Linked DNA regions of Homo sapiens: region 2 is linked to region 1. The links come from fine-mapping of genetic effects on plasma protein levels. A gene starts in region 1. The other region holds a variant in brackets. All regions are shown on one strand. Distances are between the middles of the regions.

Region 1 (8,000 bases):
TGGTAAACAGAATGATGGAAGATAGAAGCTCATCAGTTAAATAAAAATAATACAGGCCAGGCACAGTGGCTCACACCTGTAATCCCAGCACTTTGGGAGGCCAAGGCAGGTGGATCACGAGGTCAGGGGTTCGAGAGCAGCCTGACCAACATGGTGAAACCCCATCTCTACTAAAAATACAAAATTAGCTGGGCATGGTGGTGGGCACCTGTAATCCCAGCTACTCAGGAGGCTGAAGCAGGAAAATTGCTTGAACCCGGGAGGCAGAGGTTGCAGTGAGCCGAGATCGTGCCACTGCACTCCAGCCTGGGTGACAAAGCGAGACTCCGTCTCAAAAAATAATAATAATAATAATAATAATAATATAGCCTACCATAATACGGTTGCTGGAATAAAGGAGAATAAATGTAAATAACCTAGTAGAGAGCTTGGGAACCTGAGAGGCCCCACAGCTAGATTAGGAGGATATGATGGTTCATTTTATGAGTCAACTTGCCTAGCCCAATAGCTAGTAAAACATTTTCTGGGTTTTGTTTTTGTTTTTTGTTTTTTGTTTTTTTTGAGACGGAGTTTCACTCTTGTTGCCCAGGCTGGAGTGCAATGACGTGATCTCGGCTCACAGCAACCTCCACCTCCCGGGTTCAAGCGATTCTCCTGCCTCAGCCTCCCAAGTAGCTGAGATTACAGGCGTGAGCCACCATGCCTGGCTAATTTTGTATTTTTAGTAGAGATGGGGTTTCTCCATGTTGGTCAGGCTGGTCTCAAACTCCCGACCTCAGGTGATCCGCCCGCCTCAGCCTCCCAAAATGATGGAATTACAGGCATGAGCCACCACGCCTGGCCCATTTTTCTGGGTATTTCTGAAAGAGATTAGCATCTGAGGCCGGGCACGGTGGCTCACACCTGTAATCCCAGCACTTTGGGAGGCCAAGGCAGGCGGATCACCTGAGGTCGGGAGTTCGAGCCCAGCCTGGCCAACATGGTGAAACCCCATCTCTACTAAAAATACAAAAAATTAGCCCAGCGTGGTGGCATGCACCTGTGTAGTCCCAGCTACTCAGGAGGCTGAGGCAGGAGAATCGCTTGAACCCAGGAGGTGGAGGTTGCAGTGAGCCATGATCGGACCACTGCACTCCAGCCTGGGCAACAGAGCGAGACTCTGTCTCAAAAACAAACAAACAAAAAGTAATCTATGGTGATAAAGGTTAGAATAATGAGACTAATGATTAACTGTGGCAGGGTAATACTGACTTCCCTGGAAGTCTTCTGAGGTGCTGGGAATTTTCTTTATCTTGATATAGGCATATTCATATGTAAAATTCAGCTCTACATTTAAGATTTATAGGGGTTTTTTTGTTTGTTTGTTTTTGAGACAGTCTCCCTCTGTCACCCAGGCTGGAGTGCAGTGGCGTGATCCCAGCTCACTGCAACTCTGCCTCTCGGGTTCAAGCCAATTCTCATGCCTCAGCCTCCCAAATAGTTGGGATTACAGGTGCCTGCCACCACGCCCAGCTAATTTTTGTATTTTTAGTAGAGAGGGGGTTTCACCATGTTGGCCAGGCTGGTCTCGAACTCCTGATCTCAAGTGATCCACCTTCCTTGGCCTCCCAAAGTGCTGGGATTACAAGCGTGAGTCACCACGCCCGGCCTAGATTTATAAATCTCTTACATGTACATCATACCTCAGTAAGCACAATTTTTAAATATAAACAAAATTGAAGGAGTCATCATGGGGAAAACAATGAGTACTTTGTTGGGCATCCCAATCCTCATGTTACAAATGAGTGTTTATTATTGTTTGGTTGTTTTGTTTAATTGTGTATGAGGTGGCTAACATAATCTCTCGGTGCTTAAAGCCTCTAAAAGCCTTAATCTGACCACGACAGACCTTCATTAAATAGTAGATATTATTATGACTATATTTTTATTAGAAACAAAGACAATAAGCTTGCCCTGTGGAGCTCGCAACTTGCAAAGCTTTCGTTTATTTTTACGACAGCAATAATAGTGAAGTTGCCGTCTCCATTCATACATCAATTCACTCATCCATCCAATATATCTTATTGAACACCTAAGTATGTCAACACTGAGCTTGGCATCACACATCTAGAATATAGTGAATATACCATTCATTGTGCCTGGATCTCTCTTTCCACGTGGTTAGTTCCCTCTAGTCATTCAAATTTCTGTTTCAATGTTACCTTCACACCTAGGCTTTCCCTGACCTCAGCCTCCTACCTCTGCCTAACACTGTCACTGGATTTGCAAACTGCAAGGTCCTAACCAAAGCAGGTCCTATAGATGCCATCTTTGTAGCAGCTTTCTAATCAATGTACTTCTCTCTAGCCCATCTCGTGCCTTCACTCAGGTTATCTTTCACCCAGACTACCAACAAAGACTTTTCTACTCCTCTCCCTGCTTCTACTCTTCCCACTCCTCACCAGAGTGGCCTTTCTAATAGACATTCTGATTCTTTTCTCACTGTACACTCTCTCCCCAGGTGATCACATACCACACCCCAGCCCCACCCCCATGATCTCATTTCATCTTCAACAACCCCTAACTAAGAGATGTCTCAAATATACTTCTCACATGCTAAAATTAGTGGGAAAAAACTTAATGAGAATTAGGAAAGTAGATACACTTAGAGTATCTTCCACAATTACAGACAGAAAAGGAATTTTATAGTGGAAAAGCCTGACAGATACCATCTTAATCAAGTGATCAGAACTATCACTAGTAATAACAAAAAGATCACGTGCCCTGGTAAGGTTCACAGAGAAGAATTCAACATTACTTCTGCAGTATTCCAGCCAAAAATGCATGTGCTAAATTTTAATCATAAAGAAACATCAGACAAACCCAGATTGAGGGACATTCTACAAAATAAATGTCTGTAACTTCAAAATTACCAAAGTCATGAAAGACAAAGAAAATCTAGGAAACTATTTCAAGTTAATGGAGAACAAAGAAATATAACAACTGAATGCAACACGTCATCCTAGATTGGATCCTGGACCAGAAGATATTTCTTTTCATTTTATATATATGATAGTAGTGGAACAATTGGCAAATTTTGAATAAGGTCTGTAGATTAGATAATAGTACCGTATCTGTGTTCATTTCTAGAGTCTGACAGTTATATTCCGGCTATGTGAGAAAATTTTTTTTTTTAAGTAAATATACATCAGTCAGGATTCTCCAGGGAAACAGAACGAATGGTAGATATTTTGATAGATAGTTTTATTATAAAAAATTGGCTTTTTGATTATGGAAGCTAATAAATCCCAAGATCCCCAAGATCTTCAGGGTAAGTTGGCAAGCTGGAGACCCAGGAGAACTGATGATATAGTTCCAGTCCAAGTTCAAAGGCCTGAGAACCAATGGTGTAGTTCCAGTCCAAAGGCCGAGTCTAAGACCCAGATGGAGCCAGTGTTTACTTCTGAGTCTGAAGGCTGAGAAAAGCCAATGTCCGGGTCTCAAAGCAGTCAGGCAGAAGGAAGTCTCTCTTACTCCGGAGTGGGTCAGTCTTTTGTTCTAGTCAAGCTTTCAACTGGTTGGATGGGACCCACCTATATTAGGGAGGGCAATTTACTCAGTCTCCAATTCAAATGTTAATCTCATTCAAAATACTCTCACAGAAGCACCCATATTTGGCCAAATATCTGAGCACCAATCCTCTAGAAGTTGGGACATTAACCATCACAGGCCGTGCGTGGTGGCTCACGCCTCTAATCCCAGCACTTTGGGAGGCTGAGGTGGGTGGATCACCTGAGGTCAGGAGTTTGAGACCAGCCTGGCCAACATGGTGAAACCCCCCTCTCCACTAAAAATACAAAAATTAGCCAGGCGCCATTGTCCACGCCTGTAATCCCAGCTACTCAGGAGGCGGAGGCACAAGAATCACTTGAACCCAGGAGACAGAGGTTGCAGTAAGCCAAGATTGCATCACTGCACTCCAGCCTGGGCGACAGAGTGAGACTCCATCTCAAAAAAAAAAAAAAAGTTAACCATCACAGGTAGAGTTTAATAGGCTTTATCTCTGAAACTTAGTCTCAAACAGTCCAGAAAATAATTATATATTTGTAGATAGGTACATACAAATAAAACAAACAGTGAATTGTTAATATTTGGGTAATCTAGGTATCAGGATAAAGGATATACAGGAATTATTTGAACTGTTTTTTTTAACTTTAGATGCACAAACCTTGTAATTATCCTTGACACTTTCCCTCCCACAACCAAGCCATTACCACACCCTGTAGGTTTTACTTTCCTAATATACATCCTGTAGCCACAATTTCTCTCCATTTCCACCACCACCACCACCACCTTGGTCCAAATCATCATCATCTCTCACCTAGACTGCTACAGTAACCTCCCAACTTGTCTCCCTGTTTCCACTCTTGCCTCCTCTACAATCCATTCTCCACCCTGAAGCCAGTGATCTTTGCAGAATACAAACTTAAAGTCAGCTAAATGCAATGCATGATCCTTGATTGGTTTCTGAAAATTAAACATTTATAATGTTTACTTAGACTGTGCTGCTATTACAAAATACCACTGACTGGGTAATTTATAAACAGAAATGTATTTTCTCACAGTTCTGGAGGCTGGGAAGTCCAAGATTACGGCACTGGCAGGTTTGGTATCTAGTGAAGGCCAGTTCCTCATAGATACGCCATCGAGGTGACCTTACATGGCAGAAGGGACAGAAGGGGCCAACTTACCCCCTCAAGCTCTTTCAAAAGGCGTTAGTCCATTCTTGAGGGTGGAGCCCTCATAGCCTTATTACCTCCTAAAGGCCCCACCACTTAATACCAACACCATGGATTAATTTTCAACATGAATTCTGGAGGAGACATATTCAAACTATAGTAGACACCAATGAGACAGTTGGGGAAATCTGAATATCAACTGTATGTGATTATAGTATTGTATGAATGTTAAATGTCTTGGATGTGGTAATGGTATTGTGGATATGTATGAAAATGTCCTTGTTCTTAGGAGATACACATTGAAAGTACATAGCAATTAAGTGTAAAGAATTTTGTGGGGCCAGGCGCAGTGGCTCACGCCTATAATCCCAGCATTTTGGGAGGCCGAGGCGGACTGATGACCTGAGTCAAGACCAGCCTGACCAACATGGAGAAACCCCGTCTCCACTAAAAACACAAAATTAGCCAGAGTGGTGGCGCACGCCTGTAATCCCAGCTACATGGGAGGCTGAGGCAAGCAAATCGCTTGAACCCAGGAGGCGGAGGTTGCTGTGAGCCAAGATCGCACCATTGCACTCCAGCCTAGGCAACAAGAGCGAAACTCCATCTCAAAAAAAAAAAAAAGAATTTTGTGGCTGGGTGCAGTGGCTCACGCCTGTAATCCCATCACTTTGGGAGGCTGAGGCAGGCAGATCACTTGAGGTCAGGAGTTCCAGAGCAGGAGGATCACTTGAGGTCAGGAGTTCCAGACCAGCCTGGCCAACATGGTGAAACCCCATCTCTACTAGAAATGCAAAAAAATTTAGCCAGGTATGGTGGCACCAGCCTGTAGTCCCAGCTACTCAGGAGGCTGAGGCAGGAGAATCACTTGAACCCAGAAGGTGGAGGTTGCAGTGGGCCAAGATGGCGCCACTGCACTCCAGTCTGGGCAACAGAGTGAGACTCTGTTTAAAAAAAAAAAAAAAAAGAATTTTGGGCCAGGCGCAGTGGCTCACGCCTGTAATCCCTGTAATCCTGGGTGGCCGAGGAGGGTGGATCACCTGAGGTTGGGAGTTCCAGACCAGCCTGATCAACATGGAGAAACCCCGTCTCTACTAAAAATACAAAATTAGCCGGGCATGTTGGCACATGCCTGTAATCCCAGCTAATCAGGAGGCTGAGGCAGGAGACTTGCTTGAACCCAGGAGGCAGAGGTTGCAGTGAGCCAAGATCACGCCATTGCACTCCAGCCTGGGCAAGAAGAGCAAAACTCCATCTCAAAAAAAAATAAATAAATAAGATTTCTGCACCTAACTCAAGTGATTCAGCAGAAATAATTATTATTATTTCATTATTATTATACACACATACATTAAAAGAGATACAAAGCCAAGTCTGGCAAAATCTTATCAGTGAACCTAGGTGAAGAGTGGATAAATGGGTTGCTCATTGTATTAATCTTGCAAATTTTCTGGAAGTTTTAATTTTTTTTAAAGGCTAGGGAAAACAGTGTATGTCATAGTTTAAATTTCTTGAGTGTGATAAGGTTATTGTGGTTATGTATGAGAATATCTTTGTTCTTAGGAGATACATATTGGAGTAGTTAGGGGTGAAATGTCATGCTATCTGCAACTTACTTTCAAATGGTTCATCCAAAAAAGCATATAAATATATTTTAAAGTATATGTAAAGTACTTAAATATATGAGTATATATGTACAAGTATAAAATAAATATAAATGCAAAAAATGGTGGGTCAAGTGAAAGGTAGAGGGTGTTGCTTTGAACTATTCAACTTTTCTGTGGCTTTGACATTTTTCAAAATGAGAAGTTGGGGAAAAACATTTAGAAATATGTAAATATATTAAGGATACAAAATAAAATTTAAATAATTTTACAAGTTAAGAATCATCCTGGAAAAATTACATCCTGTTACATCCCTGCTTAAAACCTCAGTAGCTTCCCACTACTTCTAGGATAAAGACAAAATTGCCTAACAAGGGCTACAAGGCCTGGGGTGGTCTGGCCCGTTCCTCTCCTCCTGGTACCCTACTCATCACCATCAGCTGCCCCCTAGGCTCCAACCACACATAACCACACCCTAACTACACCAGAAGGAAAGACTCCCTCAAAATTCTCTCTCCTCCTGTCCTTTACACATGCAGCTACCAAAGCCAAAACCTCACTATGAGGGACTGAGAAATGGATTCTCATGTTGTTTCTGCTGAACTGTTTCCCTAAATCTCGGAAATATTCTCTGCCCGCCTCCCATTCCACCTCTCCAACCCCGGCCAAGTCTGGGTAACTTGCCTCCTTAGCATCCTGTGTTTATCTCATCGTAGCACCTAGTACCCAGTATTGCAATTGTCCGCTCACTTGTTAGTCTTCAGTGCTCTGTTGTCTCCTTGAAAACAGGGCCTGACTTGACTCCCCAGTCCCCAGCACTAGTCTGGGGCACAGTAATTATGTATTCAATCAGACTTCCATTTTCTTGCATATAAAATAAAGGAGTTGGGCTGGATGATCTACAAGATCTATTGGCAGTAAAATAGATCTAATAATCCCAATCCCAACTGCGCGTGAATTCCCTTTTTCTTTGCATTGCTGGGTTCAGACTTTCTGACCACCTTACCAGTGGGGAGAATCCGAGACTACAGTTCCCATGAGCCCTCAGGGCACCACGTGGTGCCTGCCCGTGCTACCAACGCGCAGCGAGGACTCCATTTCCCAGCGTGCCTCAGGAAGGGCGCCAGGACTGCATTTTGCTCCGGAGCGTCCAGAGTCCTGGCCCTGAGCGGGAATCGCAGTGGCCGAGGCTGAGCGGCAGGTAGAAGGGGCGTCTCCGGGGCTTCACAGGGAACACAGGGGCTTCGGCCCAACCACAAGTACGCAGTTGCACATGCCCTACTTTTGCCCATTCTTTGCAAATCCCCTAAGGAACGAACGCGCCTCGCGTGCGGGCCTTTCTAATCTTCGCTTGTCCCTTCACTTCCACAGCTGGAGGTCGAATTCACCACGTCACGTAGAGAAAAGGGGCGGTGTCTCGGGTCTCCCCGTGTGGCATCAAGGCGGGCTCCCTATAGGAGCTGGTGTGGACGTCCGGGCGTGGGGTTAGGGCGGATGCGGGGATCGCGGGGCGGGTGTTGACATTGTGCTCTCACCAGGCGGATCGCCCCGACCCTCACTCCTGGCGTCTGAGTCTCTGGCGTAGCCCATGCTGAGTGGGCGGCTGGTCCTGGGTCTGGTCTCCATGGCTGGCCGCGTTTGTTTGTGCCAGGGCAGCGCGGGATCCGGGGCCATCGGT
Region 2 (11,986 bases), 15 kb after region 1:
AGGGGGAGAAGGATGGGGCTCAGCCTTCTCTTGTGCAAAGTCAAGGGCAGTGGGAAATGGGGAGTACAGCTTCATCTCAAAACTGGGATGAAGGAGCCTTCCCTGTAGTCCCTGCCCACGGGGTTTACACACATGCACACGCACACGCACACACAGCTAAGACACCAAACACGGGGAGTGGGGAGTGAGGGCTCTGGAGGTCAGGATGGCAGGGCAGGGAGGGGAAGGAAGGAGTTGTTGGTCTCACAGTGTGCCTGCCAATCCCAAAGCCCTAGAGACCCCTTCACTGCAGCACCTGCCCCCGGGTCTCAGGCAGCTTCAGGGCCAGAGAGCTGCCAAGGGCAAGGGCAGCTGAGGCAAAGAGGATGGGTGCAGCCTTGGTGATTCCCACGAAGGATGTGAAGATGCTGATCCCCAGCACAGCTGCCAGCTTACACAGGGCATTCAGGAAGCCAAAAGCTGTGGTCCTGCTCAGGAGTCCCCCAGTGCAGCACGGCGCAAGGTACAGGAGGGAGGCAAAGGAAGAGTGGAGGGCAGGGAAGTGAAGTCCAGGAAGATGCAGGCAGTGTCCAAGAGGGAGAGAGAAGGTTGGAGAGATCAGAGAGGTAAAGGATGTACACCAGGAATGTAAATAAATTGAGAGACAAAGGGAAAGGAGACCAAAAATTGAGGTTAACAGTTAAGACTTTGAGGAGTAGATACAAAAGCTACCAGATTTTTTTTTCCTTTTTTTTTTTTTTTGAGACGGAGTCTTGCTCTGTTGCCCAGGCTGGAGTGCAGTGGTGCGATCTCGGCTCACTGAAAGCTCCACCTCCCGGGTTCAAGCAATTCTCCTGCCTTAGCCTCCTGAGTAGCTGCGATTACAGGCACCCAGCTAACTTTTTGTATTTTTAGTACAGACAGGGTTTCACCATGTTGGCCAGGCTGGTCTCAAACTCCTGACCTCAGGTGATCTGCCTGCCTCGGCCTCCCAAAGCACTGGGATTACAGGCATGAGTCACCGTGCCCGGCCAAAGCTACCAGATTTTAGAGGAGAAAATGGAAATGTATATCCTCTCACCCCTAAGGATGCTCTTCCCATTCAGCCCTCCTTCCTCACCCCACCCCTCCCCTGAATCCACTGCCCTGCCTCCAACACATTCCAACTACCTCTTGTCTGAGGGGTAGAGTTCAACAGTCAACACGTCCAGCGCATTCCAGGATGCAATGCTGACCCCGCCAAAAAGGCAGAGCAGAGCGATCATGGCCGACTCACTGTTCCCAAAAGACAGGAAGAAGCAGGAGACACAGGACATCACGCTGGAGCCAGCTGGAGCCAGGAGAGGAGAGAGCAACATGAGCCTGGCCACAGTGAAACCCACCCACAGCCCACCCTGTCCCATCAGCTGGCTTTCAGATAGCCCAGGATGAGACTTGTTCCGAAGGTATCCAACCAAGGTATCCAAAAGGAAGGCTTTTCACTCCTCCTCAACCTCCCTTATAATTGTTTATTAATAATATCAGTAACCATCATTTATTCAATGCCAGCCATGGGCCAAGGCAATTGATGCTTTACATGCATTGATCTAGCACATCAACCCTATGACACAGGTACTATTATCACCTCCATTTTGCAGAGGAAACAACCAGGCTCATAGAGGTAATTTGCCAGAGGCCAGAGGCAGGTGGTGGAGCTGAGATTCAAAACCCATAACCTCAAAGCCTGTGCCCTAACCACTTGCAATTCTGCTTACCTCCTTTACCCCCAGAGAAGCTTCTGTGCCAGTCCCCACCCCATCCTGCAGCACCCCCTAAACAGAAAACATGAGAGAGGAACTCTCTGACCAATCTCTTCCACAGCCCAAGGTGAGAAGCCTGTTGACTGCCTCCCGCAGCCCCTGGCCCCTACTATCAGATCTGACTCAGCCTCTCCCCCTTACCAAGCATTCTGAGCCTGCCGATCTTGTCCATGAGCAGGGCAGACACGATATTCCCAGGAAGCACTGCCAGTGTCCCCAGGAAGCTCACAAAGTATACCATGTAGGCACCTTCGCCCGTCCCTGTCACGTCTAGCGGGCAGCCCTCCTTGTTGTGCAGGAATGTACTGTTTATCAGACGGCTGTTCACAAACTTGTACTCGAACAGGTCTGTGGGCAAAGGCCAAGATAAGCAGGCAGTCATAGCAGATGGGAGAGGGAGGCTGTTACGGCTTATGGCTCAGGGCTCTGCATGTATGAAAGTTAGTAGGAGGGGCTCTCAAAATTATTCACAGTGCTAATCACAAAACATCAAATAACATCACCATGGGAACTAGGGATCTTTAGAGCAGAAAATGACCATCATCTGTCCAACAGTGTGACTTTGTCCAAGTTCTCCCATTAATAGTCTTAGCTGCTTATTCATTCTTTCTGTCCGTGCTAGCTGACTATAAGCAGTAGCGATGCCGTGGACTTAGGAAATTTTTCTGAGAAAAACATTTAAAATAATAAAAAGTCCTATCCATTGTTGTTTTCCTGCAACATGGAAAAAGCTCGCCCAGTATGAGGTGGGAAATTTCAGTCTAGCTCACAAAACCAGCATTTCGTGTGCATATACTGAAGTTTGAGAATCACTATTAAAAAGGAGTGGATTCATGCAATGATCCGCACCAAATACCCCTTTTATTGATTGTTTTTCTTTTTCCCAAGAATGCTATTTTGGATGATTTTTACCTTCTTCAAAAGTGCATTAATTTTACCTCACTGAGTTATAATTTCAGCCAAAGGCAAATAAACTTGATGTTTTTGTCAGATATTCTATTACAGGAAAATGTCCAACATCCATTAGATTTTCAGAATTATTGGTGGTAGCTATCAGGCCCCTCTGCCACCTTCCCACAGGGGTCCAGGGATCTCAGCTTGAGAACCCTAAGATAGTGAATGAAAAAGGTTCCTTCTCATCAAGGTCCACCCAACCCTTTGGTCTGACACCCACCAGCCACCCCGCCTTACCAGTGTTATAGAACACAGTGTTGATGAATGTGCAGTTGCGGAAAAACGTGTTGCTGGATGTGACATCCTCAAAATAACACTCTTCAAACAGGGAATCCTCAAAGGACACTGACTTGAGCCGCAGCCCAATGAACCTGTAAGGCCAGGATGGTGAAAGACACTCCCCCGTCATCCTCATGCCCCCTCCAAGACTCACTCTTTAGCGAAGTAATGGGAAGCTGGGCATTGAGAAGAAACCACAAGTGTTTGCCCCCCAAATGTCTTGTCTTGAACCCCTAGACTCATAAAAGAGACGAGGTAGAAGGAACAGGGAAGAAGTGAAGTTTAAAAGTCCCCACATACTTGTCATTGAAGTACTGCCCGCCTCGGTGGATCTGATTCTCCAACGTGAAGTTAAAAGTTACATGCTCTACGCGCTCCCCGGGGAACACTTTGGTGCGGGATGCGTAGTCCACTGCCTGGAGATGGCGGATCATGTCAGGAAACCAGACGGTCAGGCCATAGTAGCTGAAGAGTCAAGGACAATGGAAACAGACAACAGGGCTTCAGACAAGGCTCAGAGATTAGAATCAGGCAGAGGAGAAAACGGAAATGTGTATCATCTCAGAACAAGGGAGAAATGGAGTCAACCTCTGTTAGGACCTTGCTCCTCTCCAGCCTCACCAGCTTCTCCCTGCTCCTCCCTTCAACAGTTGCTGCGCTCCTGGGGGACTTCAGGGTCTCGCACAGCAGCCACTATACTTTTTCTTACCTCCCAAGCATTTGCTTTTCCCTCTGCCAAAAACACTCTTCTCCACCCCAGCCACCCCCACTCCACCTGTCTGACTCCCATTCACCTTTGAGGACTTAGGTCCCCACCCCAGCCCAAGCCCCAAGTGCTCCCACTGCCCTTCCCCCACCCTTCTCTCATCACCCTGCTTCATAGCAAGTTTCGTCTCACTTCTTTTTTTTCTTTTGAGACGGAGTCTCGCTCTGTCACCCAGGCTGGAGTGCAGTGGCGCGATCTCGACTCACTGCAACCTCTGCCTCCCGGATTCACACCATTCTCCTGCCTCAGCCTCCAGAGTAGCTGGGACTACAGGCGCCCACCACCATGCCCGGCTAATTTTTTGTATGTTAGTAGAGACGGGGTTTCACCGTAGCCAGGATGGTCTCGATCTCCTAACCTCATGATCCGCCCGCCTCGTCCTCCCAAAGTGCTGGGATTACGAGCCTCATCGTCCTGCTTCTTAACCAAAACATAAACTCCAGGAGGACCTTGGACCACATCTGTTTCATCCCAGCACAGAATAGAAACTGAATCCTGGTCAGCCTACAGTACAAGTTTGTTGAGTGAACTAGCGAAGTAGAGGAGCTGGCTGCAGGATCAGAGGGGGTCTGCATGGCACCTTCCCTCATCGCTTGTCCCCTGCATCTCCATTCTCCCCACCTCTCTCCCAGCCCACACACCACCACAACCACCACACATCACCCAGCCCACCCATCTCCTCACCTGAATGACATGGTGAACCACACACCCATCATCATCAGAGTGATGCGCCGATATTCGGGACCAAAACAGGAGAGAAAATTCCCCCAAACCTACAGGGGACCAGACAAAGTCAGACCTTGACTATACTAAGTTCTAGCACCCATAGATCCCCACTTTTCTGCCCTCCCACCTCCCTTCAGCTCACCCATCACCCACACACATAGACTTCAGTCCTGCCTTCTTCTCCACTTCCCCCACTCCCTTCTATCTACCACCCCGTCCACCATTACCTGCCCCCCTAGGCTCAAGGCCCGGACCCCCCAGCGCTGGTACCAGGTCCCTGTGTCCGACTGGATCTCAATCAATTCATCCTCCTGATGAATCGTCTTAATGTGGGTTACCTGGGGTCAAGAGAAGGGGTGGGCAGTCACACACTCTGTGTTTCCCAACATCGGCCAGGCGCCTCAGTTTCCCCTGCATTAGCAAAATGGGAGGCAGGAGGTGGATATGATACCCTGAAAATCTCCTTACGGTAGAGTGTGGTCTGAGGTGGGGGGTACTCAGAGAGGGGCCAGGTAGGGGCTGGGGCTGCAGGGCGTGGAGGTCTGAGTCGGGAGGGCTGTGGCTTACTGAGAACACTCGCTCAGGATGTCCTTTGGCTCGCATGTTGGTATCATGGACCTGCTTCAGCACCATCCAGGCCTCATCATGCTTTCCATTCTAGAGCCAAAGACACAATCCCCACATCCAAGTCAGCCCCTACCTGACCCAGAGTTATAGACCCCCTCCCTCCCACCTGGCTTCTGTAGTCACAGGACACTAAATGGTTCCCAGCCCTCAACCCCACCACCAAGCCCTGACCTATGGGCATGCACTCACCACTCTGAAAGAGCCCCAAGCTGAGGTATAGCAAGACAATCAGACTTGGGCAAGAGCTGCGGGTTGGGGGTGGGGAGTGTTGTCCAGGGGAAAAAGGCAAGCACAGGTCTTGGGAATTCCATAGTACAGAGGAATGTAAAAACCAAAGGTAAGGGAAATGATGGGCAAGCATGTAGTCAAAGACCTAATCCTGCTGGGGTTAGGAGGGGAAGGTATAGGGGGTGGGAATGTCTCTTGAGCTGTAAATGCAGGACAGGGCCAAGGCCCTTCCCTGCAAAATCTTAAGTCATCCATGGGT[A/G]AAGAGGTCCCCTGGTTTCTCCACCCAAGAACCCCTCAGGGACACATTCCAAGGCAAAGAATGCAAGATAAAGTCCCCTGGAGAGTGGACTCTGTGAGGAAGGCAGGCAGTCAAACAGGATCAAATCAAACTCCAGTTGGTGTTTGAACACAGAAGCCCCTGCTGCCGTCCACACTCCACAGCCCGCACCCCACCCCACCCCATGCAGCTCAGCCCCATCACCTCTAGGAAGAAACGGGGGCTCTCAGGCTGCGTGGTCAGAGCCCCAATGGCAAACACAGAAGGAAAGGCGCAGACGAGGACGAAGACCCTCCAGCTGTGGAACTGGTAGGCAGAACCCATCTGAAAACTCCACCCTGGTAGGGAGAAAGTGACAGCATCAGCAGAGAGGCCAGAGGCTGGGGGAACCCACCACAGGGAGCACAGAAGAAGAGGGAGGAGGGAGATAACCTGGGGTGGATTTCCGGGGGCTGCTCACCATAGTGGGGGATGATGGCCCAGGCCATAGCAGCTGCGTACACGCCACCAATCATCCAAAACATGCAGAGCCAGCTCAAATGCTCCCCTCGTTTCTCCTGGGCCAGAAACTCGGAGAAATAGGAGAAGACAATGGGGATGGACCCTCCAATCCTGAAGTGCATTTCAAGAATTCAGCATTAGCAAATGGCCATAGTCCTGATCCCCTGCCCCACTGCTCTGGACCCCGAGCCCCTTTTGTCTTCCAGGCTTTTGAAGAGACTCCATCTCACACATAAAGCCTTACAAGCTCCCATGTGGGCCAGCCATCAAGCACCCATCCTTGGGACCATGGGAAACAGGCAAGCGAGTCTCAGGGAAAGGGAAAGAGCAAATCTTAAATCTTGAAAATGAATTACAGAGTTGGAAGGGCGGGAAAGTAATTGCAGAAAAGAGAATAAATCTCCAGAGAAAAAAGACAAGCCAAAAGCCTCCAAGGGCAGATGTTGTGGGAATGGCCAGAAAGGAGCTTGGAGTTGAAGCAGAGTAAGCGGGCCTGCCATGCTTGCAAAAGTGAAGGGGCAGTGCGGACAAGGCGTCAGGGTTCTGGCAGGTGTGGGTGTTAGCAAGGTTTGTTGTGTAATGCAGGAAATGTGTAGACTCTGGTAGGGGGTAACTCTGGGTCCACAGGAGCCCAGGGGTGGGGCTGAGGCCCACTAGGCCTCTTTGTGGAGGCAGGCTCAAAAATGGAACTAGAGGTGGGGTGGAGGACTCAGGAGTGGGCCAAGGAACAGCATTCTGGACAGCAGCAGACAGGTCCTGGGCAGGGAGGAGCTGGCCTGAAGATGGCTGGGGGAGAAAGGAACTCATTCATCCGTTCAACTCACACAGATTTAAGGTGCATTTGGTGTGCCTGGCACTGTGCTGGGCCCTAAAGATACAACAGTGACCAAGGCACAGTCCTGCCCTCAAGGGACTTAGGAAGTGTACACTCACCCAACCCCAGAAAGTAGGCGGCAGAAGAGGAAAGTGCCGTAACCCTGGACAAAAGATGAGAAGAAGGCGAAGACGCTGTTGACTGAGAGCGAGATGAGCAGACACTGCCTCCGACCCAGCCGGTCAGCCAGACCTCCCCAGAGGAAGGCTCCCACCATCATGCCCAGGTAGACGATGAGGCCTGGAAGGAGGAGGAAAACAGGCAGAGGGGGTGTGAGCAGACACACCTTAATTCTCCCAGGAGATGAGCACTGAGGGAGCTGAAGGATCTGAAAAACTTCTAGAAGGTAAGTCTACCCAGAGATTAGAGCAAGTGAGAGAAAATGAATGGTGTAAGCAAAGATAGAAGATCATCTCTGCAGGCCAGGGGTTCAAAGGCAGGAATGAAGATATGGGAGAACCTGCAAACTCTCCACTCTCTTCGGTCTGTCTCATTTCTCACTCTGACACACACACAGTGACACCTTTACCCCTGGCTCACTTTGAAGGAGGAATGGGTGTGCCTAGGATCACAGACCACCCCAGGGTCCTCTCTATTCTCCCTGCTTTGATCCCTCAAAGCAGCAGGAGAGCTCTCATTTGTTCCTGGGGAAAGGGGCTCCAATTCATTTCATCTTCCCAGGAAATCTCCCACACAAAATCCATCCTTTACTCCTTCCAGTCTCAATATTTCTGGTCCAAAAACTCTCCTGTTTTTCACTGCCTTCATAAAACCAAAGCTGGAATTAATCTTTAAAATCATCTACTCCAAACTTTGCATTTTCCCATGCCCAAACCAAGCCCCAGGAAGAAGAGACCTGTCCAAGACCCCATGGCAATTTGGTGGCAGAGTAAGGCCTCGATTCTTTCTCTGTGAGTCTACGGGGTTCCTCCTCAGAGTCCCTGTCAGGAAAGGCCATCAAAGACTACATCCTGTCCCCTGGAAACTCCCATCTGAGTGAGAGAAAGTCTAACCAGCTTCTCTGGCAGAAGATCCAGGACCCTCCCCCCCTCCCCCAACCACCCCAAACTGACTCTCCCCATTTATACCAAGGAGTTTGGATACTGGCTTCTTGTTCCCCAATCAGTGAAAGGGAACAGGATAACCAGAGGGAAAGCTATGAAGAAACATTAAATGGTAGGGACCATCCTACCACAGCCACCTCCTGCAGAATGAAGCAGACCACCACCCAACCACTGGCCCAAGCCCCAGTCCAGCTGCCCTCCCGCAAGCCCCTCTGTCACATTCAACTTCACCCTGACCCAAGGCCAAGAAGAGGGAGTGTGTGAGGGAAGAGTGTGCAGAGGAACCCTGAGCCCTCTGGGAACATCTTGGGTGCAGGGTCCTAGGGAACCCAGTGGTAAGGACAAGAGCAATTTCCAGGAGCAAGGAGGTTTCCAGAGTTTGAGGGGATAAGGCTGGAGCCCCCCATGTCTTACCTAGCATGCCTTTGTTGGAGTCGGACAGGCACATGTCTTTCTCAGCGCTGGGCAGCACGAAGCCCACCACAAAGACCTCCACACCGTCAGCCATCAGCGCCAGACCAAGCACAAAATACAGTGTCCACTGGAAGCGGCCGTGGCCACACTCCCGTAGGATGGCTTCATACTGTTGGGCCAGTTCTTCTCGTTCTTTCCGTCGTTGTGCCTCCCCCCGGCCCCCAGGGGGACCCTCCCCATCACTCAAGCCCCCCCTTACTCCAGCCAGGGGCGCCCCATCTGCCATCCGCTCGCCTTTGCCCCCAGACTCTGCCCGGGGAATGCCCTGATATTCCCCTTCATAGATCTCATCATCCTCGTCATGGCCCTCAGTAGCATCACTGGATGCACCACCTTCCTCCTCATCCTGGGTCCCTTCTCCTCGGTAATAACCATCACTGGGAGCAGGGAAGTCATCATCATCATCCTCCTCCTCAAAGCGGGAGTACGATCTTCGGGAATATTCGTCCTGGACTCTGTCCAGGCCCTTCACCACCTTCTTGGCCGCATGCTTTTTGACTTCCTTAGCAATGTCTTTGGCCCCACGGATGAAAGCTGCCCGGTCTCGGAAGCCCTCTTCCATGATGGGGCTTGGGGCACTTCACTGGGTCTTCTCCACCTCCTGCTTCTTTTTCAGCTTTTTGCTCAAGGACTTGTAGAGTCAAAAAGACCCCTCCCCACAGTTACTTAGATGAAGCGTGTTCCAGTATCTCTGGGCACAAAAAAAAGAGCAAACAGGTCCTAGCCAATGAGTGCCTAGGAAGGAAAAGGAAGGAGAGGAGCTTTGACCTATACCCAGTTCAGTTGGGTGGATGGGGAAGGGACAGGGGGAGCAGGGGAATGGGAAGGGGAAGGGGAGCCAGATTGGGAGGCTAAGCCAGGATAACTCAGGAAGGGTCGCCTGCTTCTCTTCCACAAGCCTCTGGAGACCTAGAAAAAATAACAGACAGCAAAAGGAAGTTGTGAGTCCTAAGGTGGTGAAGAAGGCCAGTATAAAGCCTCTCAACCCAGAGCCCCATCTGGACCATGTGGTGCAGAGATGGTCTTCTCGCTTTAGGCTCCCATCCACACACTAAAAAGGGATGGCTATCTGGGCTAACCGGGTCACTCACATAGAAGTCCCCTTACTTTGACCTTGGAGGCCTGGCCTGTGGAATTTGCTCCAAAGTCGCAGTCACCTACCCCCAAACCCACCCCAGCCCTTGCTTTATCACCAATCTGCAAAGAACTAAACAGGAAATATGAGAAACCAGAATTCCCTTCTTTAGTCTTGCCTGGGTTTCTTACTAGGGGTGGAGTTGAGGAGGATGTGTAAGAGGACAAGCCCTCCAACCTGTGGCCTTCCCTCCTCTGATGGCATCTGAAGGCAGGGGCTTCCACTGTCCTTCCCTCAGGTCCCATGTTTACAGGCTTCAACAAGGAGGGATTTTCTCTCAACATAGTCTAATGGGTAAATGCTCAGCTTCCAGAGTCACAAAGACATGGGGTTGACTTCCTGTTTTGGCAAATACTAGCTAAGGGACCAAGCCTCAGTTTCTTCTTGTTTAAAAAGGGGAAAGTAAGGGTCGAATGATATAATGTATCTATGCTCCTTACCATAAGTCACCTGGCACATAAAAATGATGAATAAATATTAATTATTAATTTTGTGGTGACAGTAATATAGTGAAATGCCCTATACTACCTCATAAGGTCCCCAGATGAAAGCTATCTTGGATGCTCTTTAGGGTGAGCAGCAGGAAGGGACACTGGCAAGGAGAATCCTGGTTCAGGGCAAAGCACATGACTGTTAGGGGTGACCTAAGTTGAAATCCCAACTCTGCCACTTACTAACTGATCTCAGTCAGGGTAGTTAACCTCCCTAAGCCTCAGTGTCCATCTATTTTAACTGGGGATAATTAAATTGGGAGACTGTTTCTTGGAGTTGATGTGAGAATGTAATCTCACAGTAGATACTCTATGTTAGTTTTCTTCCTTCCTATGATGTTGAAAGTGGGAAAGAAACAGGAAGCAGCAAGGGACAACAGGGGGGTCATACTTAGATGCTGTTGCCCAGCATCCTTGCAAACAGAGTCCCAAGACACCCCTATCTATGTTTCAACTAATTCCAGTAGCTGGGCCCACATTAACTACCTCCAGAAGAACAAGGGAAGATCCAGAAAAGGGGGACCTGGAACCCAAGTAAAGTGGAGGAAAGATGGAAAGCTAAGAAAGAGGTGATGACTGTCCACTGCCACCTTGCTTCAGAATGTCATAGATAGGCCCCCTTTCCACAGATGGGGGTGAGAATGGAAATGACTGTCAAATGCATACATTTCCAACATGAGGTTCTAAGGCCTACAGTTGCATCCCATCCCTCCAGGGCCTCCCTTCCTAATCCCCCTTAATCCTTTCTGCTCCTCCTCCAGGAGTCAAGGAAGAAGGAGTCCACAAACACCGCATTGCGTAGGAGGCGGATGTAGAATAAAGGGGGTTTGGGTGTCCCCCCAAAAAAGACATTCTCCAGAGGAAGGCATGGGATAGCCCCCTTCCTTCATAGGAGCAGAGGAAGCAGGCCTAGATTCTGATCAGAAATCATCCCCCTAAAAATATCCTGCCTCCGGTGCTCCCACCCATCCAGGGCCTTCATTAAAACACACACACACACACACACACGCACACACACACACACGCCCTGGTAGAAGACGGTAAGCAATGCTATGTGGTTCAGAGAGAAGCACTGGCAAGCAGCGCCTTATCCCCTCAGGACAGATGTAAGCAGTGGACCACGGTGACCAGAAGCAGTGACCCCTATGTCACCTTTTCTTCATGGTTCAGGGCCCAACCATCCCCCATGAAAGAGCTGGAACTGCGGAATCCCCTCAGCGCATGGCAATTTGCTAGCTTTCCTCTCTTTCCTAACCAGGATCTCCCCTCCAGCCCTGAAGGAGGCAGGACCCACCAGGAGCCATACTCTATGTTTGTTGACCCTATTTCCCCCTGAGAGGGGCACGTAGGGCAGGGAAGCCTTCCACAACCACAGCAGGATATGAGGTCTCAACAGCCAGCTTCCTCAGGGCCAGCAAGCCCAGGAGGTCAGGAGAGAAAGAAAGAAGACAAATTCTTTGAGCTGGTGAGGAAGTGGTGCTATTTTTAGCCCCCAAAACAGCACAGGGTGGCTAAGCCTGGGGGAGTGAGACAAGACTTGGAGAGGTGGAGGTTAAAGGAGACAAGGTTCAGGGTTACAAGGTCCTAGGCTGGCTGACTTCACCTGACAGGAAAAAATGTGCCCAGGAGATTTTCTGCAGAGGGTGGAGACAGGCAGGGGACTCCAGAGCAAATGCTTTCTTTCAGAACAGCTCATCCAGCCCTGGGTCCAGAACCCCCCACCCTCCCAGTCAAAGCCCCTGACTTTGGGGTCCACCCAGATCCCCAGGCCTTCCTAGCTCAGGTGACAAGGTCATTAAAAAGCAATCACTT

Which allele goes with the higher level. Positions count from the first base shown, and alleles are read on the strand shown. Strength reflects both the effect of a copy and how common the allele is.
For the plasma level of the protein whose gene starts at base 7,419 in region 1, allele G in region 2 goes with a lower level than allele A (strong association).

What was found. PIP is the posterior inclusion probability: the model's chance that the variant is causal. Protein levels are from antibody-based Olink assays in UK Biobank. Linkage for the fine-mapping came from a reference panel and not from the study's own genotypes, which makes the PIPs less certain.
Region 2: its variant is fine-mapped to the plasma level of the BOLA1 protein (UK Biobank, PIP above 0.99).

Annotation. Positions count from the first base shown.
Region 1 is chr1:149,892,150-149,900,149 of GRCh38, forward strand. It overlaps BOLA1 (bolA family member 1), which reads left to right and starts at 7,419. Exons shown (of 2, transcript NM_016074.5): 1 at 7,419-7,523; 2 at 7,861-8,000. The coding sequence starts at 7,911. It overlaps LOC124904412 (a long non-coding RNA gene), which reads right to left and starts at 7,399. Exons shown (of 2, transcript XR_007066597.1): 1 at 7,329-7,399; 2 at 3,227-3,572. RefSeq lists an enhancer at 7,453-7,512.
Region 2 is chr1:149,904,731-149,916,716 of GRCh38, forward strand. It overlaps SV2A (synaptic vesicle glycoprotein 2A), which reads right to left. Exons shown (of 13, transcript NM_014849.5): 2 at 8,489-9,457; 3 at 7,070-7,250; 4 at 6,096-6,247; 5 at 5,840-5,973; 6 at 5,071-5,160; 7 at 4,731-4,841; 8 at 4,462-4,550; 9 at 3,312-3,476; 10 at 2,970-3,103; 11 at 1,920-2,126; 12 at 1,150-1,309; 13 at 1-467. The coding sequence starts at 9,110. The coding sequence ends at 284. Among named protein-coding and RNA genes, the nearest start is that of SV2A, 7.1 kb to the right of the region's middle. RefSeq lists enhancers at 5,447-5,948, 5,949-6,448. The variant A/G (reference allele first, on the strand shown) is at 5,618.